Linked DNA regions of Homo sapiens: regions 2, 3, 4 and 5 are each reported to be linked to region 1. Evidence: microRNA targets listed by miRTarBase, many of them from high-throughput screens and not tested one by one. Region 1 holds a microRNA gene; each other region holds the end of a gene's coding sequence.

What was found. Region 1 holds the annotated microRNA hsa-miR-4731-5p (UGCUGGGGGCCACAUGAGUGUG, at 4,189-4,210, shown strand). A microRNA usually pairs through its seed, bases 2 to 8, with sites in the 3' UTR of a target mRNA and lowers its output. Matches are read on the target gene's strand: a 7mer-m8 pairs with bases 2 to 8, a 7mer-A1 pairs with bases 2 to 7 and ends in A, and an 8mer does both.
Region 2: the mRNA of PTPN4 is a reported target of hsa-miR-4731-5p. The part of its 3' UTR that is shown has no 7-base or 8-base seed match.
Region 3: the mRNA of THEM4 is a reported target of hsa-miR-4731-5p. Seed matches in the 3' UTR shown: 7mer-A1 at 3,411-3,417 and 7mer-A1 at 927-933.
Region 4: miRTarBase lists GPRC5B as a target of hsa-miR-4731-5p. Seed matches in the 3' UTR shown: 8mer at 680-687 and 8mer at 2,382-2,389.
Region 5: miRTarBase lists CENPO as a target of hsa-miR-4731-5p. Seed matches in the 3' UTR shown: 7mer-m8 at 3,453-3,459.

The regions. Positions count from the first base shown.
Region 1 is chr17:15,250,116-15,255,875 of GRCh38, reverse strand. It overlaps MIR4731 (microRNA 4731), which reads left to right and starts at 4,180; the gene lies at 4,180-4,249. The region is part of intron 3 of PMP22 (peripheral myelin protein 22); the gene reads left to right.
Region 2 is chr2:119,974,734-119,980,622 of GRCh38, forward strand. PTPN4 (protein tyrosine phosphatase non-receptor type 4) reads left to right here. Exons shown (of 27, transcript NM_002830.4): 27 at 2,251-5,889. The coding sequence ends at 2,337. Among named protein-coding and RNA genes, the nearest start is that of EPB41L5, 35 kb to the right of the region's middle.
Region 3 is chr1:151,871,229-151,877,117 of GRCh38, forward strand. THEM4 (thioesterase superfamily member 4) reads right to left here. Exons shown (of 6, transcript NM_053055.5): 5 at 5,773-5,889; 6 at 1-3,700. The coding sequence ends at 3,660. Among named protein-coding and RNA genes, the nearest start is that of THEM5, 20 kb to the left of the region's middle.
Region 4 is chr16:19,855,024-19,860,771 of GRCh38, reverse strand. It overlaps GPRC5B (G protein-coupled receptor class C group 5 member B), which reads left to right. Exons shown (of 4, transcript NM_016235.3): 4 at 228-4,081. The coding sequence ends at 272. IQCK (IQ motif containing K) reads right to left here. Exons shown (of 9, transcript NM_153208.3): 9 at 2,305-4,285. The coding sequence ends at 4,224. Among named protein-coding and RNA genes, the nearest start is that of GPRC5B, 27 kb to the left of the region's middle. RefSeq lists enhancers at 1-113, 1,387-2,586, 5,737-5,748.
Region 5 is chr2:24,817,367-24,822,859 of GRCh38, forward strand. It overlaps CENPO (centromere protein O), which reads left to right. Exons shown (of 8, transcript NM_001322101.2): 7 at 304-475; 8 at 1,988-5,010. The coding sequence ends at 440. It overlaps ADCY3 (adenylate cyclase 3), which reads right to left. Exons shown (of 22, transcript NM_004036.5): 19 at 5,145-5,264; 20 at 4,151-4,274; 21 at 3,358-3,482; 22 at 1,803-2,748. The coding sequence ends at 2,566. Among named protein-coding and RNA genes, the nearest start is that of CENPO, 27 kb to the left of the region's middle. RefSeq lists enhancers at 4,600-5,143, 5,144-5,493.

The sequences.
Region 1 (5,760 bases):
GCAGGCCAGGTGCCCAAAGGGAGGCAGGCAGACAGCGTCTGAGTTCAGGGAGGAAGCGGATGGGAAATCTCTGGTGGGAGGTAGAATCTGATCCATCCTCCAAAGGATGGGCAGGATTTAAGTCAATACAGGCAACGGGGAGGAGAATATTCCCTGTGACCTAAGGTAAGGGTAGAACAAGGCAGGGGATGGGGTAGACTGGTTGGCTAGTGTTCTGGTTAGGATTAGGATTGATTGTGTATAAGAGAACATCTTCAAATGATAGGGGCTTAAGTAAGATCATTTATTTTTCTCTCTTTTCAAAGAAGTCTGGAAGTAGGTAGCCTGAGAGAGGTATGGAGGTTCCATGAAATTGTCAGAGATGCAGACACTTTCTAGCTCATTTCTTTGCCATCTCTTGGGTTTGGCTGTCATCTTCAGGAAACAAAAGGCTGCTAGAGCTCCAGCCATCTCATCCATGATTCAAGCAGTAGGGTGGAGAAAGGAGGTGGGGAAGAATGAATCTCCTTTTCTTTTAATGAAATGTGACATGGTCACACCTACACCTATTTACAAGAGAGGCTGAGAAATATAGTCATTCGGCCTTGGGGGAAGCATGGCTTTTCAAATCATAGAAACCTGGCAGCAAATACCTCTCTGTAAGCCTGGTGTGGAATACTTTCCTTGAGGGTTTGACCATCCCCTCCCATACCCAATCATACTCTTTTGCAATAGCTCAGTTGGGCCCTATGCAGTTCCATAAGTCCCAGTTATTTCAGCATTCTTCAAAGAGTCCATCTCTGCTGCATCCTGGGCTCTGTCAGCCACCCCACCATTCTCACATGGGCTCTTCTCAGAAACTTTAGGACCTGTTGAGGCTTCTCTCTCTCTATTTCTACCACCTCTCCAGGTATAAGTAAGTCTTATTATTATTATTGAGACAGAGTTTCACTCTTGTTGCCCAGGCTGGAGTTCAGTGGCGCCATCTTGGCTCACTGCAACCTCCGCTTCCCGGGTTCAAGCAATTCTCCTGCCTCAGCCTCCCGGGTAGCTGGGATTACAGGCATGCGCCACCACGCTTGGCTAATTTTTTGTATTTTTAGTAGAGACGGGCTTTCTCCATGTTGGTCAGGCTGGTCTCGAACTCCCGACCTCAGGTGATCCACCTGCCTCAGCCTCCCAAAGTGCTGAGATTACAAGCGTGAGCCACCATGCCTGGCCATCTTATTATTATTTAATGAGTCCAGACCTCTCTTCTGAATCCCAGACCTGTTTATCCAGCTGTCTCCTGGCCACTTCCCTTGGGATATCTAAGAGAGGCCCCCAAGTCACTAGGCCAGAGACAGTCCTTATCTTCCTCTGCCAATTCAACCCCTCTGTCACTTTCTAGTATTTTAGTGAATGCTGCTTCACCAGCCAGCAAGCCAAACATCTAGAGTCTGCCTTGACTTGACGCGTTTCCTTCTTTCTCTTCTCAGCATTGTCACGGGTCCCTCAGGCCACCCCATTGTTCCAATGCCTGTTGCCCACCTGTGGTCACGCTGCTTCCTCGTTTGTCAGAGGCGCCAGGGCAGCCTCCTAACTAGTTTGCCTGAACCCTTTCTTGCTCCTCTGTGACTCATTTTTCATATGGAATCCAGGCTGATATTTAAAAAAGCACAAACCTAATTATATCACTCCTCATTTTGAAACCTTTCAGAGGCCGTTCATTGGTCTTAATCTTCAGATGAAAATCTTTAACAAGGCCCATCGGAATCTACCTGAATGATCCACTCCTGCTTCTGTTAAGTCTCACCTCCCATCTCTCTTCCCCTCATCTTGGAATTTCAGCGTTTTCTCACGTCCTGAAATGTGAACTTCCCACTTCGGGAGTCTCTCCATTTCTCTTCTGATCTTTCATGCAGGACTATTTCTTGAACAACTCTCGTGTACCAGAGACTATTGCAGGTGCTAAGGTTACAAGAGTGAACAAGAGCTTATGTTTTACTGGACAAACCAGTCAGTAAACATGGAGAATTTGGGGGCAATGGTAAGAACTATATAAGACAGGGTAATGGGATAAAGAGGGATTGCAGTGGTGAAGGAAGGTCTCCTTGAGGAGTGGCCAGGAGCCAGCCATATGAACATCTCGGGGAGGTTCCATACAGAAGGACCGTCAAGTGCAAGATCGCTGGGGAGGGAAGGAGCTTGGCGTAGTTGAGGGACAGAGGGCAGGGCAGACTAGTGGGAACAGAGAGTGAGGGGTAAGTAGAATCACAGACCATCTCAAAGGTACCCCCCACCCCCACTAGGAAGGAGTTGGGTGCACATGGATGCATTTCTAATCTTTGTGATTTCCTTAGACCTGCTGTCTTCCACGGGTTTCTCAGTGGTCCATTTGATTCCAAGTTGGAGTGACAGTCCAGAAGCCTCTATAAGGCAGAATATATCAGAAATTGTACAAGGTAGAAATGCATCGGTATATTTTCAGTGATTATTTTGGGTGACGGGATTCTTATCACTTTGGCTGTTTTCTTTCTTTTGCTGCCTTACCTGTTTTCCTCATTGAGATCTTTTATTTTCACAATCAGAAAATAACTGTGAACATTTTATGTTAGAAAATTGGTTTTGAGTAGTAAGTAGGTTCCCTCTGCCTTGATTAAGAGAGTGGAGCCCTGGGGCATGGCACGCAGGGTCCATGGCGTCGCTTTGAATGAGGCCAGTTCCTGGAGCTTTAGTTTGCAAACTCATACAATCTGGAAGGCTCTGGTGAGGGGGAGGGGTGTGCCAAGCCTCCTCCCCAAGACCCTATGGGTGAGTTTAAAATCTACTGACCCAAAGGATTCAGGCAAAACATTTGCCCTGCTATTGAATGAACCAGTGCTTTTTGTTTTGAAGTCTCCAAGATCCAAATATCAAGTCCAAGTTCTCACAAGCATTCCCCTGCTTTTTGTTTAATTTGTGTGGACCTGACGTGTAGCAGAATGGGTCAGAATACTGGAATTAAGCCACAGGCGGCTTGGGAGCCCAAGAGCTAGAAGGGCACAGTCCTGGCTTGCCCTGGCCCCTGGCTGGTCTTCATCAGCTTCAGTGATGAGGCAGGACCCAGGCAGTTTGTCTTCAGTAAAATCTGTCTCTCAGGGCCTGTCCCTGCTCACAAAGTCCTCTCTTGTCTCAGAAGAAAAGGTAGTTGATAAACTTTTTCATGCTGAGGTGTTAGGCACAAAAAATGTGCCCCTTTTTGAATCACTTTTGTTTTTAAAAAGGAGGCCAGTGCTCAACACCAAAGCATGAAGGGAATTGTTGAGCTTTCCTGTAATCTGTCCCCAAACGTCCTTGGCCACCTCCATTGTCTAAGGGCAGTACCTGCAGCCCCTCATTTCCCAGTGACAACAGGTGGGTCTGCTCTGCCACAGTGTGTGGGCGGGACCAGCACCAGACGCTGAGAAGATGACCACTTACTACTCTTCTTTTCCATTTAAACAGCAGCAGCAGCAGCAGCAGCAGCAGCAGCAGCAGCAACAGCAAACTCATGACTATCAATAGGTTGTGTGAGGAATTAGATCAATGCTTTGGGTTGAAAATTAGAGAAACTAAATCTTGCCAGTCTCAGCAGCCCCCAACCTGAGCCCTTGGTGGTCTCCTATCATCGCTGTCTTCAAAACGATCCCAGACTTGTTTATCAATTTGGTGACACTGTCATTTTGGCAAGGACACCAGACAATTTCCTTGTCTGTGGCTCAGCTTTTGGCCAGATTTTAGAAAACACGGGAGACCTTCTGCATTTATGGGTTCATGTTTTACATTTTAAAATCTTCGTGGCTCCCTCAGCCAACCCATAATCTCTACCCAAGGAATGGCTCTGGATTTTACAGGCTCTTATGAGATGCTGAGACCCTGGTGGTACAAGGGAGGTACAGAGGACGGAATGTGTTGTCAACATGCCAGGATTTCAACCCTTAGGGTTTCTCTGATGCCAATACCCAGGAATTAGTATGAAATGTTTGTTTGAACCTGTGTCTGAACTGTATGACCTGGAATCTATAGTCTTTGCTTTAAAAAAACTTCAATTGTATCCCCAAGATTTCACCAGCACCAAGAAAACATCCCTTGCATTTCAGGAGCAGGGACTGGCCATGGTGCAGCCTGAGGTTGTGGATGTTGATCTTTGGTGCCCGAGAGAAGGCTGTCTGGGATGAAGCCTTCTGACTGTGGTCAGGTCCCTGCCAGTGCTGGGGGCCACATGAGTGTGCAGTCATCCACACACAAGTGGCCCCCAACACTGGCAGGGACCCGGAGTCATCTGGCCCATCCCTCCTTCCTATCCCATCGAGCCACAGACCCCTCTGCAATATGCCTACCACATGTTCATCCTACCACTGATGGGGAACTTATTACCTTCAAGAGAGCCTCTTTTGTTTTTGAAGAGCTAATAGTGAGATCCATTCATGTGTTCTTCAACTCTATTGAGCCTGTCCTATGTACTGGGCACTGTTCTAGAAATGGGGTGCACAGAGATGAACAAGAAAGAGCAGGTCCCTGCCATTGTGCAGCTCACAAGGAGTTGGAGGAAACAGGCAATACACAATACATGCATCACTATGGGTAGTGGAACATGCTCTGCAGGAAACAAATAGGGTGATCCAATGGAAAGTCATCACTGGAGGAATGAGCTGCTCAGGGAAGGCCTCTTCCTTCCATAGTGATGTGGTCTGAGATTTAGAAGACAGGGAAGGACCAGTTATAGGAAGAACCATGGGAAGAAAATTCTAGGAGGTAAAGGGAAGAACCAAGGCCCTGAGTTAGCTGAAGAAAGGAGGGTGGGGAATGCGGGAGAGAGGGATGGGAGCAGGATCGCTGGTGCCTCACAGGCTGTGGTACTGAGAAGGACAGTTGGGACATCATTGAAGGGTTTTAAGCAGAAGAGTGTCATGATTTGATTCATGTTTTGTAAGCTCATTCTGGCTGTTGAGAATGAATTCTGGGGAGAGGCAAGAGTGGAAACTGGGGACCAGTGAGGAGTTTGTGGTCATAGTCCAGACTGGACATGATGATGACACTGAGATGACAATGATGACAATGACAATGATGTTAAGAATACAAACAGCTCACGTAAGTGCCAGGCATTCTTTGAAAAGCAATGCATTTAATCCTCACAAGAACTCTAGGAGGTAGCTGGTGGCTTAGCTAGGGAGGGGAAGTAGAGAAGAAAACAGGTCTCATGACAGGGTTTGCTGATGGGTTAGATGTAGGGAGTTAGGGAAGAATGATTCTAGATGACTCTACGTTTTGGGCTTGAGCAACTGGTGTGTAACTGAATCTTGGACTGAGATGGGGAGACTGGAGGAGGAACAGAAGATTTGCGGGAAGGTGTAGAAATCAGGATTTATATTTTGACCATCAGAGAGGTCAGCAAATCACTTCAATTTAGAAGTCTTTGGCTTAGGGGAGAGGTCTGGGCTGGAAATTCAAAGTCAAGAGTCATTCCTCTATACCGAAGGGTATTCAATGTTGTGGTGCTGAATACAGTTACTTGGGGAGGAGTTGAGAGCAGAAGGCAGAAAAGGGGAACAGGGTTCAGAGCTAAGTCTTGGGCATGCCAGGGGTTAACGAGGGTACAGGAAGGAGAGGAGACTGGGGATGAACAGCCAGTGATGAGGGAGGAATGCCAGGAGATATTGTCACTTAAGAAATTACCTCGGCTGGGCGCGGTGGCTCACGCCTATAATCCCAGCACTTTGGGAGGCTGAGGCGGGCGGATTACAAGGTCAGGAGATTGAGACCATCCTGGCTAACACGGTG
Region 2 (5,889 bases), not on the chromosome of region 1:
CCAACCTCTGAGCACTAAGGACTTTTATTTGCTTGGGTTAATTTTTGTCTCTCAAAATGATAAATGGCACAACCAGTAAAATACATTTATCATAGGTTAATGCTTATGCTTCCAATACAAATTCAGGACCACAGTGTTTTTACTTAGCCTCTTTTACATCTTTAACAAGAATACTGGTTCTTTACAATATTAGCAATGAAAGACTTAGAATATCACAAATACTCCACATTACACAACTGTTTCAGAATAACAACACTACCACTATAAACAGTATGGCTAATGAAAAGAGTTTTCCTTTTTTTCACAGCTCTTTTTGCCCTTTGAGTATATTCTCCCACAGTATGCAGTCAAATTACTGAGGTGTTTGTTTGTTTGTTTGTTTATTTGCAGTATTTTTGAGACAGAGTCTTGCTCTGTTGCCAGGCTGGTTTGCAGTAGTGTGATCACCACTCATCGCAGCCTCAACCTCCTTGGCTCAAATGTTCCTCCCATCTCCACCTCCCAAGTATCTTAGGACTACAGGCACACACCACAGCACCCACCCAATTTTTTTTTCTTTTTTTGTAGACACAGGGTCTTGCTGTGTTGCCCATGCTGGTCTTGAATTCCTGGCCACAAGTGATGCTCCCACCTTGGCCTACGAGAGTGCTGGTATTACAGGCATGAGCCACCATGGCCAGCCAAATTACTGTTTTAAAGTCCCTTCAGGGATGGGTGCGGTGGCTCACGCCTGTAATCTCAGCACTTTAGGAGGCCATTGCAGGTGGGGATCACCTGAGGTCAGGAGTTCAAGACCAGTCTGGCCAACATGGTGAAAGCCTGTCTCTGCGAAAGTACAAAAATTAGCCGGGCATGATGGCAGGTGCCTGTAATCCCAGCTACTCCGGAGGCTGAGGCAGGAGACTCTCTTGAACCCGGGAGGAGGAGGTTGCAGTAAGTCAAGATTGCGCCATTGAACTCTAGCCTGGGTGACAGAGTGAGACTCCGTCTAAAAAAAAATGTCCCTTCAAATAGCTCTCCTCTATATGGTTGTCATCAACTAGATACACACATTGATTAGTTTTATGATATTGTCAATGCTTAGGGATTTTAAGATTTTTATAATTATATGCTATATTTACATTATTCCAAAGTATAAATCTAAAAAGGAAGGTATATTTAATGAAGTCTAGTCTAGTCTCTGTCCCTCTCCTGCTCCCATTTCCCTCCATCCCTTTATAAGAAACTATTTTTATTTATTTTATTTTATTTTTATTTATTTATTTATTTTTTTTTTTTTTGAGACGGAGTCTCGTTCTGTTGCCCAGGCTGGAGCACAGTGGCGCGATCTCGGCTCACTGCAAGCTCCGCCTCCCAGGTTCACGCCATTCTCCTGCCTCAGCCTCCTGAGTAGCTGGGACTACAGGCACCCACTACCACGCCCGGCTAATTTTTTTTGTATTTTTAGTAGAGACGGGGTTTCACCGTGTTAGCCAGGATGGTCTCGATCTCCTGACCTCGTGATCCACCCACCTTGGCCTCCCAAAGTGCTGGGATTACAGGCGTGAGCCACCGCACCCGGCCAAGAAACTATTTTTAAAATAATTTATTCTTCCATTGCTTTTTTTTTCTTAACATACATCAAGATAGATACTGTATTTTCTTCCCTTTCTTTTATAAAGGTAATATAATATATTATACGTACTTTACCTACCTTGCTTTTTTTACTTAATAAAATAACCTGGAATCATTCTCTAGTAGTTTGTAGACTTTTATCCCTTTTCTTCCCGACTAGCTAGTATTCCATTTTGAGAATGTACAGTAGTCACCTGGTCCCTGTTGATGGCAATTAAATTGTTTCCACCTTTTCTGTTATAAATAATTAGGCAATGAATAGCCTTGTTTGTGAATATGTGTTTTCAGTTTCTTTTTCTGGTTTATTTTTTGGATAGATTCTTAGAAGTGGGATTGCTGGGTGAAGAGGTAAATTAGGTTAATTTTCTTATATGCTGCCAAATTCCCCTTTATAGAGGCTGCAGTATTTTAACATCCCTACCAGCAACATATAAGTGAGTTTTGCCAACAAAATATATTGCCAAACTGTATTTTTTAACCAGTCTAGACTGTTAGTGAAAAATGGTATCTTTATGCAGTTTTGTTTTGCATTTTTTAAGTAAGCAAGCCAAGTGAGATGTTTGTCTTTTTTGGGGGGAGAGGGGACGGTTTTCTGACTTTTCTGATCAGTTCTGTTTTTTATATTTTATTTTTCAGAGTCAATACAGATTTGTATGTGAAGCTATTTTGAAAGTTTATGAAGAAGGCTTTGTTAAACCCTTAACAACATCAACAAATAAATAAGAAAGCAAAAAGATCTGGGATATGTGTTGGAAAACTGCTTTCCCTTATGTTCACTGTGCCATAATGCTGCTCGCAGGAAATGGCATTTTACAAAAAAAAAATGAAGAACTCAAAAAAACTTTGAAAACTTCAGCACTGTTGCACTTTATGTTTTAAAAAATGTCACTCTTTCAAAATCTATAACTCATGTATTTGAAGACTGTTTCATGCTTTGCTCCGAACAAATAGTAAATAACTGAGTATGTTCAGGGTAATTTATGAAATTTTGTGGTGGTGCCATGCAATCCCCTTTTGGTAGAATTGCCACAAACAAGGCTCAAAATTCTCATCATCTCTGTTATACACCTGTATCATGAAAGCAAAAAGAAGTAAACATCAGGAGTCAGCTCTGGTCTTTTGCAGTGGTTTGCGTACTTACTATACTGATTACCAGATTTTATTTTTAAAATTTTAGCAATATCGTTCTTAATATTAGCCAATACACTGCCTATGGATGCAGCACATTTTTCCCTGCACACCCCCTGTAGAGACCTGCCTGCTGCTCAGAAGAAGAAAGATGGAATTTGCTGTTCCCAGGAAATGCTGCACATTGTCCATTTACCAGCATCTTATAGAAAATATAAATATGAATCTACAAATTCTCTTGGATTTAATAATGTAACTTATATTTATCATAAGGTTGGCTTATTCCAAATCATGTGATTTCACATACTTGATGTAAAGGAATGCATGCATTGTGTCTTAACCCCTTAAGTGCCTTGAGACGTCCTTGTATGTCTAACGAAAAGGCACTCATTTGACCCCACTAGGAGGTATATATGTATATTGTACATTCGTATATTTTTATGCATTTTGAATAAGTTCACATTTTAAAAAACAGCTATATTGAGTGTTATACAGTCAAAGAAGGGTAAGGAAATTCTGTTTCTTACTCAGTACTCGTGATTTGCTATAAGAAGCAAAGATAATTTGTGTTCTACTGAGTGCACACTGCTGCTATGGAATTGTTCAAAATCTGCACATTCCTTTACTTGAGGGACTGAGGGGTTACGGTTTAGCAGCTCAACTTTAAAAGATGCTTTTATGCTTCAAATTTCATATTTATTTCATCCCTAACTTTAGGAAGACATCTAACATGCAGATTAATGTTAAACATATTGATAATCTAAGCTAAAGTTAGAGCAAATAATTGTGATTTATTCATGTCCATAACTAAAATATTATTCTTTAGCACTCATTTCAGTTAATATCAAGCTTTGTTCACACTGATATATTGATTGGGATTCTTCAAACGAAGAATGAAACATTATTGACTTATTTCTAAGTGTAATAACTCAATAACTAAATTGAGAATTTTCTTGTTTTTTTGTGTACAATTAAATTATTCCATTTTATATATACTTATTAAGTTATAAGCATGTTAATAAGGAGACTTTTGACTGTCCAGCCTAATGGAGGATCTGATTCCCATTAAGGATGTGGGAATTCCCGTATTTTCCTCTTCAGGTTTTTTTGTTTTTAAGTCTACAGAGAGATAGAACCTTAACATTGCCCAGTTTGATAAAAGTGAAAATTTGCTCACCTATACAAATGTTATTTTACACAATTATTTTATGTGGATTGGGGTTTTAAAAGATTCATTTCCTAGCAGTTTCTGAATATTTCTGTAAGATCTTGATAAAGTTTAGAGTCAAATGGCAGATATTTTGGAAAGCCATTTAGTATGAGGGGAAGAGTACACATTTTAAATCTTTGGTATAATCTAAACGATGTCATTTCAGACATTCAAAACTCATAATAATAAATTTCAGGAAATCAAGCTCCTAAACATTAATAGCCAAGATACCAAATAAATTATCATATTAAAATATTTAAGTTTATTTAAAGAGAGAAGTAAACATAAACTTATGTCAAAGAGAAATTCTCTTAATCTATTTCCTGACTTCACAGTCAAAACAGTATAAGATAGTGAAGTAACTTATAATCTTATTTGGTCATTCTGTTCTATAAACAGACAAATATAATTTAGGCTGCTATATGACATGATAAATTAAAAACTGAGAAAGTAAAATTATGTCGGGGTCTACACATTAAATGACTGTTTTGGCAGTTTTTCACCTGAATTTAAAAATAAAATTTGTCTGTTCTATCTGTATGGACAGAATATGACAACCATAGACCAAAAGATATCATTGTATAGATGTAAAGAGACAAAAGTCATGGTTGGCATGTTCTTTAATTTAGGGCCTTGTTTATACTTGTGAGTTTAATAATTTCTTGGCAATGAGCACTGCTGCCTTTTTAAATCATCAATGCCTGTCTTTAAATGCCAATCATTAGAAGTTTAGAATTACATTTAAATTTCTCATATATGAATTTTTCATCTGGGAACTACCCACTGTCGTCATTTTTATGTGCAGAAAAGATCCTTTTTGAAAACCATATTTATTGGGATCTTATTTAAATTTAAATTATCCTTTACAACTTCTTAAAATGAATATGCTAATAGATAAGACTTTATCCATTACATCTAAGAACTTTTTAACCTGTATATCAATCTAAATAGGTTTCTAGAAATAATCCTAGCTTTCATACACCATGTAGTTCTAGACTCCGTCCATATCAGTGTAACATTGTGTGATAAAATGCCAAATGTCTTGTATCTAAGCTACGCTCCCACTCTTCCAGCCACCCCTACCTCCCACCTTGACACCCTTAAGAAAGCAATGCTGACTTTTATTCTGACAAGTGGAAATCAATAGTGGTTAATCAAGTGGATTTTGTAAATGCTAAGAAGTGTTTGTGAAAACCTTCCCTTTCTGAGTTAGGATTGTTTTTTCCTGTTCATTTCAGGTGTTTTATTGAGCATCTGATTTGTGTCAGCACCATGTAAATATGATGAGGAGTATTTGGAATAGACTTTACATTCACCAGAAAATTGATAGTATTTGTTAAACCAATGCATCCATTCAAAATAGAGGCAGAGTAAACAGCCTAAGAAATGATTTCCTTTCTACAGTCTGCTAGGAGAAAGAGGTGAGAGGGGAGTGGTTGATGATTTTAATCAAGAGTAAAGGGAACATTTATTACATGAAATCTGACTTCAGTTGTGCAAAGGTATGTTAAGACATTAAGACAATTGCTGGAAGGTTTCAAATATGTGTACACACACATAGAGCTACTTTTGTGTGTTTATTTATATGTATATTTCACAAAGGCTAATGCCCACAGAGGAAAATGATTATTTTAACTTCTGGGTTATCATCTGCTGGCAGGGTCTGATCAGGTCTAGAGTATTTAAGGAAAAGTCTCCTGTCTTCTATCTCCACTAGAAGTACTGCAGCTTGAGAGCTGAAAGGAACTTGAAAAATGTTATCCAGTCTTCACTTAGCCCATTTTTATCGGCATTAGGAAATAGGGTTCAGCAATGGTTATTGATTTAGCAGTCTGGTCTTATATGATCTGCTTTCTAATTATCTATCTAGTATTCCTATATTATACTGGAACTTCAATAAATTATAACCTATGTGAATATCATAAATTCTTGTGAAT
Region 3 (5,889 bases), not on the chromosome of region 1:
GCAGGAGAATCGCTTGAACCTGGGAGGTGGAGGTTGCATTGAGCTGAGATTGTGTCTCTGCATTCCAGCCCAGGCGACAGAGCCAGACCCTGTCTTGAAAAAAAAAAAAAAAAAAGAAAAAGAAAAAAGAAAGGAAAAAGAAGGAAACAGGAAATGAGGAATAGTTCCATTAGGTCACACAGCAAGCCAGTGATGGAGTGGAGCTGGCAATTCTGATAGCATCTCTCTCCTTCTTTCTACCTGTTCTGCCACCTTTTGTTATCTTACATACTTGTCAAAATACAACCTGAGGAAAGCAAGAGTGCCAGGGCATGGTGAAGGCTAGGAATAGTCTGCTGCAAAGCAGGGAAGCCATTTTTCCCTCACTGGCTATGGGGAACCCTATGTTAACAGTGACTGAGCTTTTTCCTTAGTTGATCTTGTGCAGCATCTAACCTGGATGTGAGCAAACCAGTGTAAGAAATGAAACTGTAAAGGGAAAAAAGTGGATACGAAGGGAGGCAGGCATACTTAACATGAAGAAAACCTGGTCATTTGGCACTCTTTCAGTTAGGTTCTTTCACTTGGCTGGAGGTCTGGTGTGCCATAGCAGTTCTGCAAGCCTGCCAGAGAAATCTAACGATGAGAGTACAGTACCTTCATTGTCTAAACTTCCTCCCAACTAGTTAAGTGAAACTAGCTAAATGAGCAGCGCTGGCTTATTCCTTCGGAGTCATATTTTTTAACATGTGAAATATAATTATTGTAAGAGTCCACTCTCTTAAGTTTCAGGATTTGTTGGAAGACTGGGAATAGAGGGTGGCCATTGCCAGACCTGTAACTTGTAGAGCTGTGAGCCCAGCCATCTCCTGGGGCACTTTCCCAGGCTCTCTCAGAATTTCTGGGAGAAGGAACTGCCAGCTTCACCCCTGCAGTGCCCCCATGTCTGCTGGGCCCTTGCAACTTGAGAACTGGAGTTGGGCACTAGAGACAGGGCTTCCAGGATGTGGGTCTTCCTCTGGCTTGGCCATCCCAGGTCAGTCAGCTCTGGCAATGGAGGGCTCCAGCTGATCTTTTGGCTGTGGAAGGATGACTGGGTAGGGTACCACAAGGCTGTCCCTAAGTTATTAGGTTGAACCATAGGAAATTGTCAATATTTGACCATTCTGTTCTTCGAAATAGTGATTTCATATGGTTCAGCTTAAATTTCTAATATGGGGAAAGAAAGGAAAGAAATGGAAGCCCAAATAATCTATTGCCTGCACTAGGAAGCAGAATATATTTTCCAGAACATTAGTCTCTGTAGGGAAAAGAGAGATCAGACTGTTACTGTGTCTATGTAGAAAGGAAGACATGAGAAATTCCATTTTGATCTGTTCTAAGAAAATTGCTTTGCCTTGAGATGCTGTTAATCTGTAACTTTAGCCCCAACCCTGTGCTTACAGAAACATGTGCTGTATGGAATCAAGGTTTAAGGGATCTAGGACTGTGCAGGACGTGCCTCATTAACAGTATGTTTACAGGCAGTATGCTTGGTAAAAGTCATCGCCATTCTCCATTCTCAATTAACCAGGGGCAAAATGCACTGTGGAAAGCCGCAGGGACCTCTGCCCAAGAAAGCCTGGGTATTGTCCAAGGTTTCCCCCCACTGAGACAGCCTGAGATATGGCCTCCCGGGAAGGGAAAGACCTGACCATCCCCCAGCCCGACACCCGCAAAGGGTCTGTGCTGAGGGGGATTAGTAAAAGAGGAAGGCCTCTTGTGGTTGAGATGAGGAAGGCCTCTGTCTCCTGCATGCCCCTGGGAACAGCATGTCTTGGTGTAAAACCCGATCCTATGTTCGTTCCATTCTGAGATAGGAGAAAACCACCCTGTGGCTGGAGCCAAGATACGCTGGCGGCAATGCTGCTGTTACTCTTTGCTACACTGAGATGTTTGGGTGGAGAGAAGCATAAATCTGGCCTACGTACACATCTGGGCATAGTACCTTCCCTTGAACTTATTTGTAACACAGATTCCTTTGCTCACAGATTTTCCTGCTGACCTTCTCCCCACTATCACCCTGTTCTCCTGCTGCATTCCCCTTGCCGAGATAGTGAAAACAGTAATCAATAAATACTGAGAGAGCTGAGACTGGGGCCGGTGCGGGTCCTCTGTATGCTGAGCACCGGTCCCCTGGGCCCAGGGTTCTTTCTTTATACTTTGTCTCTGTGCCTTATTTCTTTTCTCAGTCTCTCATCCCACCTGATGAGAAACACCCACAGGTGTGGAGGGGCTGGCCCCCTTCAACTCTCCGTTCATTTTTTAGTTTTGTTGAGGCTCTTTTACAGGTTGAATTGTGTCCTCCCAAAAAAGGTATGTTGTGGTCCTAATCTCCAATACCTCATAAGGTCACTTTATTTGGAAATACATTTTTTACAGAGGTAATCAAGTTAAAATGAGGTCATTCAGGTGGGTCCATTATGACTGGTTTCCTTATAAAAAGAGGAGACTTGGACACAGAGATAGATCTGCACAGAGGGAAGACACTGTGGAGACACACAGAGGGAATGCCATGTGAAGATGGAGGACTGGAATGATGCATCTAGAAGCCAAGGAACACCTGAGGCTCCCAGAAGCCAGGAGGGAGGCGTGGACAGCTCCTTCCCTAGCACTTTCAGGAGAATGGCCTTGGTCAACACCTTGATTTTGAACTTCTGGCCTCCAGAACTGAGAGACAATGAGTTTTTGTTGGTTTAAACAATCCAGTTTGTACTACTTTGCTACAGCAGCCCTAGGAAATGAACACAGGCTCCTTCCAGTGATGAAAACCTATGCTGTTGGTAAGAAACAACAGTACAGCCTGGGTTAAAAATGGCACAGTGGTTTAATCTCTAGAATCTCAGACAACAGATTTGAGGTATTCATTCCTATAGGATCTGGCTGTGCTTCCTACACTGACCAAAAAAGATTCATGTGTTCAGATACAACAAAGCTAGCTTTCTAACTTACTAACTTACAATGTATATGCATATGCACATGCCTGTGTGTTTCCCACCATGTATTTATTCTTCATGCTTGGTTTTCTAGCATTTTCAAGTTTGCAGTAAAAGGTTCAATACACATTTATTTCTCTAGTCTGCAGTGGAGCAGGTAACATATCCTAAGGAGACAAGAGTTTTTTTTTTTTGTTTGTTTGTTTGTTTGAGATGGGTTCTTGTTCTGTTGCCCAGGTTGGAGTGATGTGGCATGATCTTGGCTCACTGCAACCTCTTCCTCCTGGGTTCAAGCAATTCTCCTGCCTCAGCCTCCTGAGTAGCTGGGACTACAGGCGTACGCCACCATGCCTGGATAATTTTTTGTATTTTAGTAGAGACGGAGTTTCATCGTGTTGCCCAGACTGATCTTGAACTCCTGAGCTCAGGCAATCCGCCTGCCTCGGCCTCCTAAAGTGCTGGGATTATAGGTGTGAGCCACAGCGCCTGGCCCGAGAGTTGTCGATATGCTCGCAGGAAGTATTTCTGTGTTAAAAAGTTGAGAAGATGGAAACTGAATCCTCTTTGTATTCAGAAGGCTGTTTCGGAAGGTCACTGTTGGCAGGCTTCTCCCTACAGGGATTCAGCAGTGAGGGAGCAGAGTATTTGGGGGACAACTGCTTCTTCTGGAGGGGCGAGAATGAGATGGAGTTCACCAGCAGCTCTTTATGTCAGACTTTTAGCAGGATTCAGCTTTATAAATAAGCCTAAACAAACAAAATAACAGCAGATGATTATATGTCAACTGACTTCAATTTGATGGACTACTCTAAATAGAAAGACATATACAAAAGAAGGATTTGATTCACATTTGTAGCTTCAGTCTATCTGTCCACTCTCATTTTTCAGCCAAATTAAGAATCAGCTTTTGACTATCACAATACTGTATTACTTCTCCCTGGGTAACCAGGTCCTCACCACTTGGCCATTTCATGGTTCCTCACTACTTCCATTAGAAATGAAAAGAACTAAAATTACAAGTGAGCCATCTGGCACCTTTATGATATTGAAAGGTTTAGTGAGACAGGAAGTACAAACCACAGCCTGGAATGGAGTTCTTAAATTGACTGTGGATTTAAGTTATTATCTTCCACCTGCTCCTTAAATCCATCATTCCTGCAAATGCTTCATACTTAAGAGGAAAAATAAATTTCTTAAACAAGATACAAAAAAATTAGCCATAAAGGGAAAAATGTAATAAATGCAACTAAATTGACATTAAAAATTTCTGTTCATAAAGAAGATACCTTAAAGCAAATAAAAGACAACTTACACACTGTAAGGAGGTATGTGCAACTTATATATCCAACAAAAAATTGTTCTAATAGAAAATATATAAAGAACATCTATAAATCAGTAAGAAAATGAGAACAAATGGAAAAAAAGCTGAACAAACAAAAATTTCACAGAATGGGAAAAAATATGGTCAATAAACATATGAAGAGACACTCAACCACACAGGTAATCAGAGAAATGCAAATCAAGATCACACCGAGAAGTCATTTTATAGTCATTTGACTGGCAAAAATCATGAAGTCTGACTTCACTAATTGCTAGAGAAGATGGGAATCTAAAGAATCTCATATATTGCTGGTGGGAGTTTAATTTGGTACAGGCTTAGAAAACAATTTTGCATTCCTCTGTAAAGCTGAATACTCACAATACTCTACCACCCAGAAATTCTGTTCCTAAGTATATGCCAAGCTCTTGCCCATGCACACCACCAGGAGACATGAACAAGAATGTTTATAGCAGCCCCATTTGTAATAGTCAGAGGCCTGTCACTGGAAGAGAGACATTCATTGTGGGACAGTCACATATGGAGTATTACACAGTGGTACAAACAAGTGAACACAGCCAACAACATGGATGAACCTCAGTACTCCAGGGAAGTAACAGGTCATGTGTGTGACTTTCCTGAGACAGTCTACACACACATAAATATAGACATATTTTTCTTATTTATGGTATCACAATATTTCACCATTTTTTAATGGCACACACATACAATATAGTTCATAGGTGAGCTGTAGTTCTTTAACCAGTCTCCTATTGATGGATAGCTATGTTTGCTACGTTTTGCCATTTTTCTTGCTATTGCAAATAATGTTGCATGAGTGACACAATCACTGGAACCCGATAGCAATCTAACACATTATAATTTTGCAGTTATTATACCTGTGAGATAAAGTCCTGGAGGTGGGTCAAAGGGCATATCACTTTGTAAATTTTTTTTTTTTTTTTGAGACAGGGTCTGGCTCTGTCACCCAGGCTGGAGTGCAGAGGTGCGATCTCAGCTCACTGCAACCTCTGTCTCCTGGGTTCAAGGGAGCCTCCCATCTCAGCCTCCCAAGTAGCTGGGACTACAGGCGCACACTACCATGCCCCGCTAATTTTTTGTATTTTTTGTAGAGATGGGGTCTTGCCATGTTGCCAAGGCTGGTCTCGAACTCCTGGGCTCAAGTGATCCTCCCACCTTAGCCTACCAAAGTGCGGGGACTACAGGCATGAGCTTATGCATTGGGCTGTAATTTTGATAGCTGTTGGCAACTTGCCCTTTACTAGCAATGTATAAGAATATCTTTAACTTGTTCTTTGTATGACAGGGAATTAAGAATTTTTTGGCATGTATGGGTTATAATACCAGGGCAAAAAACCAAACCAAACCAAAACACCCCCCTGACCCCCACAAAACCCAAATCAACCAACCAACCAACCAACCAAAACTCCCAACCCAACCCAACTAAACCCCAAGAAAGAGATAAGACCAGCTTCTTACTTGTCGCCTCTGAGTATAGGGTCTTCTCATCAACACTCTGAACATTACAGGAAACAAAAAATTTCCTTCCTTCAACTTTATCAAGTTGGCTATTTATCATAACAACAGAACAAAGAG
Region 4 (5,748 bases), not on the chromosome of region 1:
TGAACTTACATTCCTTACGGGTGGATGGTTATAGAAAAGGGAGCTGGGCTTCCCAAGAACCACAGCAGCATGACTCACAGTCATTGCTGCCTCTCCTGGGAATTATTCGACCCATCTAGGTAAAAGCAAGGTAACTTATTTTTGCCGCGTTGTTTACGCATCGGTTTCTAGTGTTGACTTTGCAAAGCACAGAGTTCTCAGTGTGTTATCCTTATGTGTTATTCCAGATCCCAACTGCTCCGCCAAGTCACACAGGAAGACACCTTTGGTGAAAGACTTTAAGTTCCAGAGAATCAGAATTTCTCTTACCGATTTGCCTCCCTGGCTGTGTCTTTCTTGAGGGAGAAATCGGTAACAGTTGCCGAACCAGGCCGCCTCACAGCCAGGAAATTTGGAAATCCTAGCCAAGGGGATTTCGTGTAAATGTGAACACTGACGAACTGAAAAGCTAACACCGACTGCCCGCCCCTCCCCTGCCACACACACAGACACGTAATACCAGACCAACCTCAATCCCCGCAAACTAAAGCAAAGCTAATTGCAAATAGTATTAGGCTCACTGGAAAATGTGGCTGGGAAGACTGTTTCATCCTCTGGGGGTAGAACAGAACCAAATTCACAGCTGGTGGGCCAGACTGGTGTTGGTTGGAGGTGGGGGGCTCCCACTCTTATCACCTCTCCCCAGCAAGTGCTGGACCCCAGGTAGCCTCTTGGAGATGACCGTTGCGTTGAGGACAAATGGGGACTTTGCCACCGGCTTGCCTGGTGGTTTGCACATTTCAGGGGGGTCAGGAGAGTTAAGGAGGTTGTGGGTGGGATTCCAAGGTGAGGCCCAACTGAATCGTGGGGTGAGCTTTATAGCCAGTAGAGGTGGAGGGACCCTGGCATGTGCCAAAGAAGAGGCCCTCTGGGTGATGAAGTGACCATCACATTTGGAAAGTGATCAACCACTGTTCCTTCTATGGGGCTCTTGCTCTAGTGTCTATGGTGAGAACACAGGCCCCGCCCCTTCCCTTGTAGAGCCATAGAAATATTCTGGCTTGGGGCAGCAGTCCCTTCTTCCCTTGATCATCTCGCCCTGTTCCTACACTTACGGGTGTATCTCCAAATCCTCTCCCAATTTTATTCCCTTATTCATTTCAAGAGCTCCAATGGGGTCTCCAGCTGAAAGCCCCTCCGGGAGGCAGGTTGGAAGGCAGGCACCACGGCAGGTTTTCCGCGATGATGTCACCTAGCAGGGCTTCAGGGGTTCCCACTAGGATGCAGAGATGACCTCTCGCTGCCTCACAAGCAGTGACACCTCGGGTCCTTTCCGTTGCTATGGTGAAAATTCCTGGATGGAATGGATCACATGAGGGTTTCTTGTTGCTTTTGGAGGGTGTGGGGGATATTTTGTTTTGGTTTTTCTGCAGGTTCCATGAAAACAGCCCTTTTCCAAGCCCATTGTTTCTGTCATGGTTTCCATCTGTCCTGAGCAAGTCATTCCTTTGTTATTTAGCATTTCGAACATCTCGGCCATTCAAAGCCCCCATGTTCTCTGCACTGTTTGGCCAGCATAACCTCTAGCATCGATTCAAAGCAGAGTTTTAACCTGACGGCATGGAATGTATAAATGAGGGTGGGTCCTTCTGCAGATACTCTAATCACTACATTGCTTTTTCTATAAAACTACCCATAAGCCTTTAACCTTTAAAGAAAAATGAAAAAGGTTAGTGTTTGGGGGCCGGGGGAGGACTGACCGCTTCATAAGCCAGTACGTCTGAGCTGAGTATGTTTCAATAAACCTTTTGATATTTCTCAAGGCCCTAGTCTCTGCTGTCTCCCCTCCCCACCCCATCCTTGCAAAGCACTGGGGAAAGTAAGGCCAATCTGGCCCTCCCTGTGTGACCCGCCTTCGAGTTTTCCTTAACAGTTAGTACATTTCCTTGTGTTACCACGCATGGGGAAGAAAACGCATGGCCCCAGAATGCCACCCCCACCTGACCTCCCCGGAAGCACCCCGCCTCTGCCCAGAGCATGTGCTTGCTTCTAGAGAATCCCGTTCCAGTCATTGCGTGGACAGAAAACGTAAGAGTCCTGGGGAGGGGTGGGAGGGAATGAAGCTAGGACCTGGGGTGGGGGTGGGGGCGGTTGCATGCGGACCCGGTATTCTGAAAAGAAAGAAATCTTCAAACACCTCGGTCCTGTCCGGTGAAAAAACGACAGCATTACACATTCTCGTGCCAGGAAATGGTTACTCACCCCCGCTCTCTGGAGTCCTTTGGAGCTTTCTGATACCATTCACACGATGGAGCAATTCACACGTTCGTTTTCTAAGTTCTTTATTGTCCAAGCATATAAGGTGAGCACAGCACAAATGGCTGCCATGGAAAGTCGTGCTTCCCCAGCATAAGAACAGAGCCATCTTTGAGCCATGGGAAGCCTCATTTAATGAGACCTTTTTCCCCCCTTTTAAATCTGATATGTTATCGCACTTAGGGTTTTGTTTTATTTTGGCTTTTAAGGTTGAGAGTGGGCTGAACGCCTTCATAATGGGGGCGGAGGCGGGAGTGAGAGGAGAAGGGAGAGAGCTGTTCTTTTTCTAATGACTACACCTGAAAAGTATCAAGAGACATCTTTGCCAAGAGACTGTAGCAGCCAGCTGCCCCCCGTGGAGCAAGGTTTAAAGACAAAATTAAATGGCACCTCTGTTTAAGATCTGCGTGTGTAAACAAGACTCGTTTGGGGAAAACGACCCGGGAGGAGAGCATCTGTGATCAAAATCTCTCATTGTAAGCACAAATTGTTCCGTGTCTGGTTATTAAAATCGCTTTGGGTCTATAACAGCCACTCTTGTCCCCCCTTTTAATAGAAAATTGTCATTCTAGCCTGGATTTCTCCCCACTGGAGGTGGAGGGTGGGAAGAGAAGGGAGTCAGCTCTGACAGCTTACAAACTGGGAAGTTCTGTGCATCTCCAGGGATTCCAGAGTTGAAGATCTGGTTGTTGGAAGCTGGGCGCCCAGTGCTTTTTTTTTTTTTTTTTTTTAGCCCAGATGCCGTCAGGACCCACTGAACAAGGGTGAACTCGGGTGGTGGTCTCGGTTGGCCAAGGCTGAGTTGAACGCCTCAGGCCAAACCCCAAGTTGAAAGGGAGCATTGTGGCTTTTATAATCCAATGATGCAATGATGATACCAGCTTACAGGAGTTCTCAGCAGGTGCTTTTTATTAACTGATGAAGAGCTAAGGCTCACTTTTGATAGATAATATATATTTATTAAATGCATTAATGTGTGTTTTATAATGTACCTTTATCTTCCCCCGGCTGACTGTTGCATACTTATAAAAAAGAAGTTAAAGAAATTTCAAGACAATCAATATGTACCATAAACGACTATATAAATATTACAAATTTAAAAGGCTGTAAACCATGGGCAGATAGGTTTTATTTTCAAAATGCTGTTCTTAACACAAAAATAAAGGCTTTACTATTTACTTAAGACGTGTGGTAGCTTGTCAAAACAACCCAGTGCAACTAACTACTAGGCTTTCGGATCTGCCTTGAGGGTCGGTCTGTGGCATTTTAAATGGGAGAATCTTGGTTAACAGCAAACCACAGAACATATTAAGGTAATAAGTTTACCCATAAAAGCAGGAACTTTCTATATAATACTTTGGGACTTAGACAACAAAAATCCTTTGTTACATCTGTCTGGGTTTAAGTGTCTCATCTTGTTGGGTTTGCAGTAAAAGTTAAGGAGTGGTCTCCTTTGGAAATGATCATTAAGTATAAGGTCTTTTTTATAAAGAGAGTAGTCAGTCACTAGGTAAACTTAAAACCAAATTCAGAGGTTGGGGACTTAAATTAGAATATGGATCTTTGCAAAGGCGGCCACAAGTGGGAAAACTGGTAATAAGAGCACTTCTGTATTCCTTGGGACTAGAGTTCATTGTACATTTTAACAGCAGCTGGTGTAGAAGAATACTCCTGAGGCACTGAAGAAGTAATCTGGATGAATGAATAAAATGTGGGGATAATGCAGAAAGTGAAGACTGGTCCTTTCTTTTCTAAACTATTTGCATTAAAGCTTGTTTGCAATGAATCCTATCTTGTACAGAAAAGATTCCATTTGCACATGTTCCAAGTCTTGTTAAAGAAATCACAAGAGAGAGAGCATCATTTGGACATTTTCCTTGCACAAGGTAACTTGTGCTCGAATGGGCAAAGATACGTCTTAGCTATGGTTAAGATGATGGAATTTTCATCTTGGCTGCAGGTACTGCATCGTCCTCCATTTTGCATTTCACTGCAAAGAAAAGAAAGGGAAAGTCAGGATCAATTTACATACGTAGACAGGCTTGTCATTGGGAAACCGGAAACTCTGATGTGTGGACAAGGTCAGTTGCACCAAAACCCACTGTGCGCCTGCTATTCATGGTTCCGGCCCCATGGATCCACGGGGAAGAACACAGGCCCATTGTGCTCTAAGGACAGCACCTGAAAGTTCAAAACCACTTCCCGGACTGTTCATGGCCATTCTTAATTCAGTTCAGAAAGAGGTCAGAAGTGTGCTTTGCCGGTCAGGGTACTGAAGGAAGGCAATTTTACTAAAGACGATGACAGATTCCAGGCTCTCCGCTCAACCCCATCTGTCACCACACACCCTGTTCTCCAGCCACCCAAAATGGAAAACTCAGGGTATCACTGGGGGCAATGCAAAGGTCTGAAGAAAATCTTTTCTCTTATGTCATGGTCTGGACCAAGAACCTGATCTCGGTGATTTCCTGTGTCTGCCAAACAGGAAAGTTAGCTCCATACAGGGTATGGCTCTGTGTGTAAGGGGAATTAATCCCAACAGATAAAAGCCTCTCCCCAATTAAATATGGAAACCCAGTCCCTTGGTGGGTGCAGTAGGGATCCTTTTGGAAAGACCCTCTCTTTTAATATATCTTTGTCTGGAGTGTCCAAGTGCTGCTTGCCCATATGTGAATGTCTTGAAAGGTGGTTTGAGCCAGGCCACAGGTTCTGATGATTTGTGGAGAGCATTGTTCTGGTAAAAAGGGTGTTTGAGCTTGTTACTATGTAGGGCTGAGGTTTCAAGTGAACCTGCCCTCGTCCTGACCTCCCAGCAACTAAGGGCATGCACCAGCCAGATGCGGCAAAGAGGTGGGTATGTACACCATCCCATGAAATGCACTTTTTTGTTTTTTTGGGGACAGAGTCTCTCTTGTCCAGGCTGGAGTGCAGTGGCAAGATCTCGGCACACTGCAACCTCCGCCTCGCAGGTTCAAGCGATTCTCCTGCCTCAGCATCCCAAGTAGCTACAGGCGTGCACCACCACGCCCTGCTACTTTTTGTATTTTTAGTAGAGATGGGTTTCCCAATGTTGCCCAGGCTGGTCTCGAACTCCCAGCCTCAAGTGATCCACCCGCCTCAGCCTCCCAAAGTGCTGGGGTTACAGGTGTGAGCCACTGCGCCTGGCCCTGTGGTTATTTTCTGATGGAGGTGGGATGAGGGCCTTCAGCAACACAGACCAGCCCTGCAGTCTTCAAACTGAGGGCAAGGGTTCTTGGTCATGGTTCATTCAAAGGAAATCAATTTCCAGATCATCAGCTTCCCACCCTCCTGTCATTCCTGGCCCAGTGTGTAAAGACTCCCCAGGTGCCAAACAAGAAGGCAGTTCAAAATGAGGGCCCTCAGAGTCTCCTTATTTTCTATGTTTGACAACTATCAAATTGTATCATGTATTTATTTGGTTTTGCGTACTAC
Region 5 (5,493 bases), not on the chromosome of region 1:
GATTTCACACCATCGGTCTTTGATTTCTCTGCGCAGTTAGATTCCAGTCCCCAGTCTCTAGATTGCATTGGTCCAGTAAGGGGCAGCCTTAGTCCAGACCAAAAAAAAAAGCTGTATGGGTCCAGTGGGTCCAGAATATCAGTGATCCAGGTTCCGATTCCCCCAGCTGCACTGAGTGAGATTGAATGTCAGTGATCCAGGCTCCGATTCCCCCAGCTGCACTGAATGAGATTGAATATCAGTGATCCAGGCTCCGATTCCCCCAGCTGCACTGAATGAGATTGATGGAATCTTTCTTTTTAGGAGTGGAAGTATTATCCACTTCATGGGAGGAGCAACGAGCATCTCATGAAACTCTGTTCTGTACGAAGCCCTTGCATCAAGTGTTTGCCTCATTTACAAGAAAAGGAGAAAAGTTGGATATGAGTCTGGTCTCCTAATAGATTGTTTTCACTGCACTGGGAGCACATCAGAGGTAAGTAACCAGTACTGAAGACAGTACCAGGTGGGTAGTACTGTCTGATGAAGGGTACATCACCCTTCTGATGAAAACAGACACCTACCTGTTCATCTGGATGGAAGAGCAGGTTTGAGTATAGACACTGGCATTTTTGAACAATTCCCATGATCACCTGGTCCCTTCTTAAAATGCTCAAGATGTTTTTTAAAGGTATTAGTTGATCATACATTTTAGTTGAAAATCATTTGTGGGGCAATAAAAGCCATTTTTTGAAAAAGGTGTATCACTCAAGAAGTACTTATGGAAAAATATCAAATTATTGAGGGCATTAACTCTGGGAAAGACCAGGCAATTAAGTTGTCACAGTAACTGCTACTAATTTAATGCCAGGAATAGAGATGCCAAAAATCCTAAAATTTTCAGAAAGGGCTCTCACAGAAATGTAGCACTCCACTCAAACTGCAATAGCTTGATTCTGTTGAGAAACACTGATCTAAATAAATGGAAAAATAACCCACATTCACTAATGAAGATAATAAGGAAGACCCAATATTTTTTTTTTTTTAAAAGGAAAGTATTTTTAGCTTTTATGAAAGCTTTAAGTAATTTTTCCTCATTTTCCTGTTTGAAACTTTTGAAAAGGAAGTTCTTCAGTGTTTGTTTGGTTAGGCGCAGTGTATTCTAGGCCACTGCTTTATAAATATGGTGTGAGAAAGCAGTAGGATAAAATAATCAGAGTTCAGTGTGTCTCATATTTTGTTTCCTAAAAGTTTAGTAGAGCTGTGAATGTACTAGGAAGTCCCCTCTGAAAAAGCACAGTTAGTTAGTTAGAAATCTGCCCATTAACTCAGGGGGACTCAGGCGCCCCCCGGGTCTTCCCTCTCCTGCAGGCTCTCCGGTTAGTGTCCTGATTTGCCGTAACCACGGGCCTCTGACCTGCTGGCACCTCTGGTTCCTTGGCGTGTGGGTCACTCACAGATATGAAAACCTGTGTCTGGCTGACCAGGTTCTCCTGTAGCCCTCCCTTGCCCAGGCACAGATAGGAGTCATGACTGGCCCAAGGCCACGTTCAGACTTAACCCTGCAATGGCCACGAAGTAACCTCCGTGTGGGAGAGCTCCAGGAACAGTGCAGGGGATTAAAGCCAGCTTGGAGTACCCTTTAGAAGAAAGTTTAAGAATAAAAGAGACAGGGCCAGGCAGCAGGCGTTCCGGGGTACAGTGAGCTATGATGAGACCTTCAAGCTCTTGCCTTCCAGGCCTGTGGTGGGGACCAGTGGCATGAGTCAGCAAAGTACCAGCACTCCTCAGATAAGTGATATTAACAGAATTTCCACAATCACTTTCAAGTTGAATAAAGCTTTTAATAAAACAGTCTTGTTCTTTATCAATACCTGTAAATTCTCTTAAAGCAGTAGCAAAGGCGACTGTAGCAAGAGCTCAAAAGGCAAGGCAATATCGGAAAGTGTATTTAACAGAAGATTAAAAATATAAATGTAGAAGATCTGTTTATATATTTTTCTTTCAGAAATAAATCCCCCCTCCCCTGCCAGGTGAAAGGAAATATTGCACTTTCTGTTCTCATGACTAAGGGGACAGGAGTTCCAGAAGAACCTTTCAAGATGATCAGGAACACCAGGACGAGGGCCGTCTCACCTCACTCGGACCACATGGAGACCTCCCTTCAAAATGGGAGCCATGTCCTGCCCCACCAAGCCCTGTCTGAAGTGGAGCTTCCCCGCCTGTGCTCCCTCCACAGTCCCGGAAAGCCCAGCGGCAAAGGCAGCTTTGTCCCAGCTCTGCCACCCTCCTGCTCACAGTGGTCAGGGCCCCTCAGGGGCAAGGACGGCAGGGATTGGAACGAGGGCTCTGGAAGGACTGTTCAGCCCTATGCCTAAGACCCCTATGCTGGGGACACTACAGGCACACACAGGAATAGCAGGGCCACCCTCAGAGCTCACACATCCACGAACAAATGAAGGCTGAGGAGGTTTCTAAACCTAAAGTCCATGAGTGTGCACTTCAATCCAGGAAGGTCGGGACTTCCTTCAGTTTCAAAAAATAAATTCTCCCTTCCGGTTTGGACTGTTGCAGGCTCGAGGCCATTCAGGAGTTGTCCACCACCTGGTGGGGCAGTGTGACAGAGGGGCCATTGGGGAAGGTGGCTAGCTTATCCCGCCCCTTCAAGAAGAAGGTCAGCAGCTCCCCCTTCCCCTTCACAAAGATGGGGCCTCGCCTCACAAAGCGGAAGCCGTACTCTCGGAGGATGACTTGGGTTTCTTCTACCACCTGGAGAGGGAGGGGGAGCAAGAACGTGGCGTTACGGGGGGAGCCTAGACTGAGGGCGGGTGGGGGCTTTGGGTGGTTGGAGCCGAGCACTGATCCATGGGTCCCAAGCAGTACGGGACACTCCCCAAACCTCCCAGGGCCAAGCCCTTCCACCCGTGGCGAGCAGCGGGTGGGAAGGAGAACCCTGGAGTGACTGGCTGGGGGCCTCCTCTCATCCAGAGACTTCTCTCCTAGGATGGCCATGGTCACCTGGGTGGCAGCACTGTTACCTGGAAACTGCCACTGCCTGCTCTTCTGTCCCTTTGCCCCTTTCGTGGAGCTTTTCTGCCAGACGCCACTGAGACAGATCACAAGGTATTAGAAGGTTCATACCCAAAGGTAGGCCATATGCATCTAGAACTTCAGCCCAGATTTTGTGGATGGGTGGAAGTGTTTCTTCCTGTGCTGAGGCTAGCTATTGCAGAGATTCTTTTCCACTTGCCCCACGTCTCTGCCTCTGGACTTACTGTTCAGGGCCAGGGTGGGAGGCAGGGGCACGTGGGAAAGCACTGTTCCGGTTTTGTTCTCATGCCGAGTCTGAGCACGTGCCAGCTGTGCCACTGGACATACCTGAATGTTGCCCATGACCCCCGTGGACTCCATCCTGCTGGCTACATTGACTGTATTGCCCCAGATGTCGTAGTGTGGTTTCCGGGCTCCGATGACCCCAGCCAGAACCCCGCCTTTGTTCATGCCTAGGGTAGAGGCATAAAGTTCAGCACAGCCACAGGCCACACCTTGTTATGGGCCTCAGAAGCCATCTCCTCTCCAGACCTGTACCACAAAGCTCCTAATGTAACACATCATTGTCCTCATTCAACTTGGCTGTATGCTATTGGAGGGTGGAAATCACATCTCCTGTTTATCCGTGTGCTTGTTAGGTGTCAGCCGCCACCCCCCCCCCATATGCAGATTTACTCGGCATGGTAGTGGCCAGCTTCTAACACAGCTGGTATTTCAAGTCTCCTGGGACCTCACTCAGGAATGATACCCCCTCAGTAGAAGCAGCAGGTGATCTTAACTCCTTTCAAAGAGCAGGCCTGTCTGGGAAGCCATGTCCTCAGCAGGCACAGCAACCCCTCTGGAAATGGATCACAAACTCACTTCTCAGCCAGGCAGGCCAAGCTTCTATTGTAACAGTAGGCACAGTATAGTCGGATCATCACATCAGCTGGGTTTTTGGTTTAGTCATCTAGAGTCGTCTGGACTAAAGGTCTTTCAGGTCTCCTTGCCCTGTGAGTGCGTGAACCTCCCCACCCGAATTGCCTCAGTTGTCCTGAGCCTCATGTCTCTCCTGGTGGTGGGCCAGGCCCCTGCATGGGAAGGGAGCCTGCTGCGGGGCAGGCCAGCTGGGGGTGCTCACCTATGCGCAGCATGAAGTTATTGAAGGACTGGTTGTTGATGTTGGTGAGCGTATCCTTCATGGCCAGCGCGAAGTCGGCCAGGTCAGCCAGGTGCTGCCAGCGCTCTCTCTCGGACTTGTCTTCCTGTGCCAGGGGACCGTGGAGAAAGTGTCAGGGGCCGCTCACTGCAGCAGCCTGCTCTGCTGCCTTCCCTGGCAGTGTTCTGGGGGTGGATTCCCTACACCTAGATGTTCAAGGCCTTACTTTTCCTCCCACAAAGGAGTCGCAGCCACGCTAGCTCTGACTTGCCACTGTGACAAAGTTCACGTAGCAGGTCTAGGCAAAGACTGGGCAATTGAGCAGAGGAGACGGACCTGTGAGTCTGACCACGAGGCGGACCCCTTCACCTTGGCTGGGCCTGGTCCTGGTCCTTAGGTTTTGTCAGGTTGTCCTTGTTTGGATCCCTCAACTAGGTGATAAGCACTGGAGGGGGATGACCCGCCTTGGACGTGTTTCTTTAACCTCATCCATATAATAGGGCCGTGGGATGGTTGTAGAGGTAAAGCAGGATGATGGTGTTTTAAGACCAGAGCTTGGGACCAGGGCTCCTACACCTAATTTTCTCTCCTGGTAGCTGAACAAAGGTCTAAATTAGCTTAACAAAAGAACAGGCTGCCGTCAGCCAGAGTTCTGAAGGCCATGCTTTCAGTTTCCCTTGTTGACAATTGCTCTCCAGTTCCTATGAAAGCACAGAGCCTTAGGGGGCCTGGCCACAGAACACAACCATCTTAGGCCTGAGCTGTGAACAGCAGGGGGTTGTGTGTCTGTTCTGTTTCTCTGCTTGCCGAACTTTCTCAATAAACCCTATTTCTTATTTATATTTACGTGGTGCTGGTGGTGTGTGTCTGGGACCACTTTGCACAGCAGTTCTTATTTCCCCCATGCTAGGTCTGGGCTGCCAATCTCTTGCCTTGGGGGCAGAGCCTCATCTCTCTGGCTACTGGGGTTAGCTACCTTGTTGGAGCTGGCAAAGCCATTGGTGTTGACATCGGGGGTGACTCCTGAAGCCGCCATATACGTGCTGCCAATGGTTTTGATCTTGGTGATCACCCGGAACTTGGGATTGTCCAGGAGCTGAGGCCAGGATTCAGGAAAGAATTGTCAGCAGTCAAGGGAGAGGAATGACCCAACCCAGTGACAGATGTACCTGTTTACAAGGACCCCACTAAACCCAAGAGACACTTTCCTATCAAAGTTGTTACTTAGTCTACCGCTTATCTGCCACATGATCCTGGGAGAACTTCCTAACTTTCTGGGCCTGTTTCCACAACCTCAACACTGACATAAAATCGGCAGTCTCCTA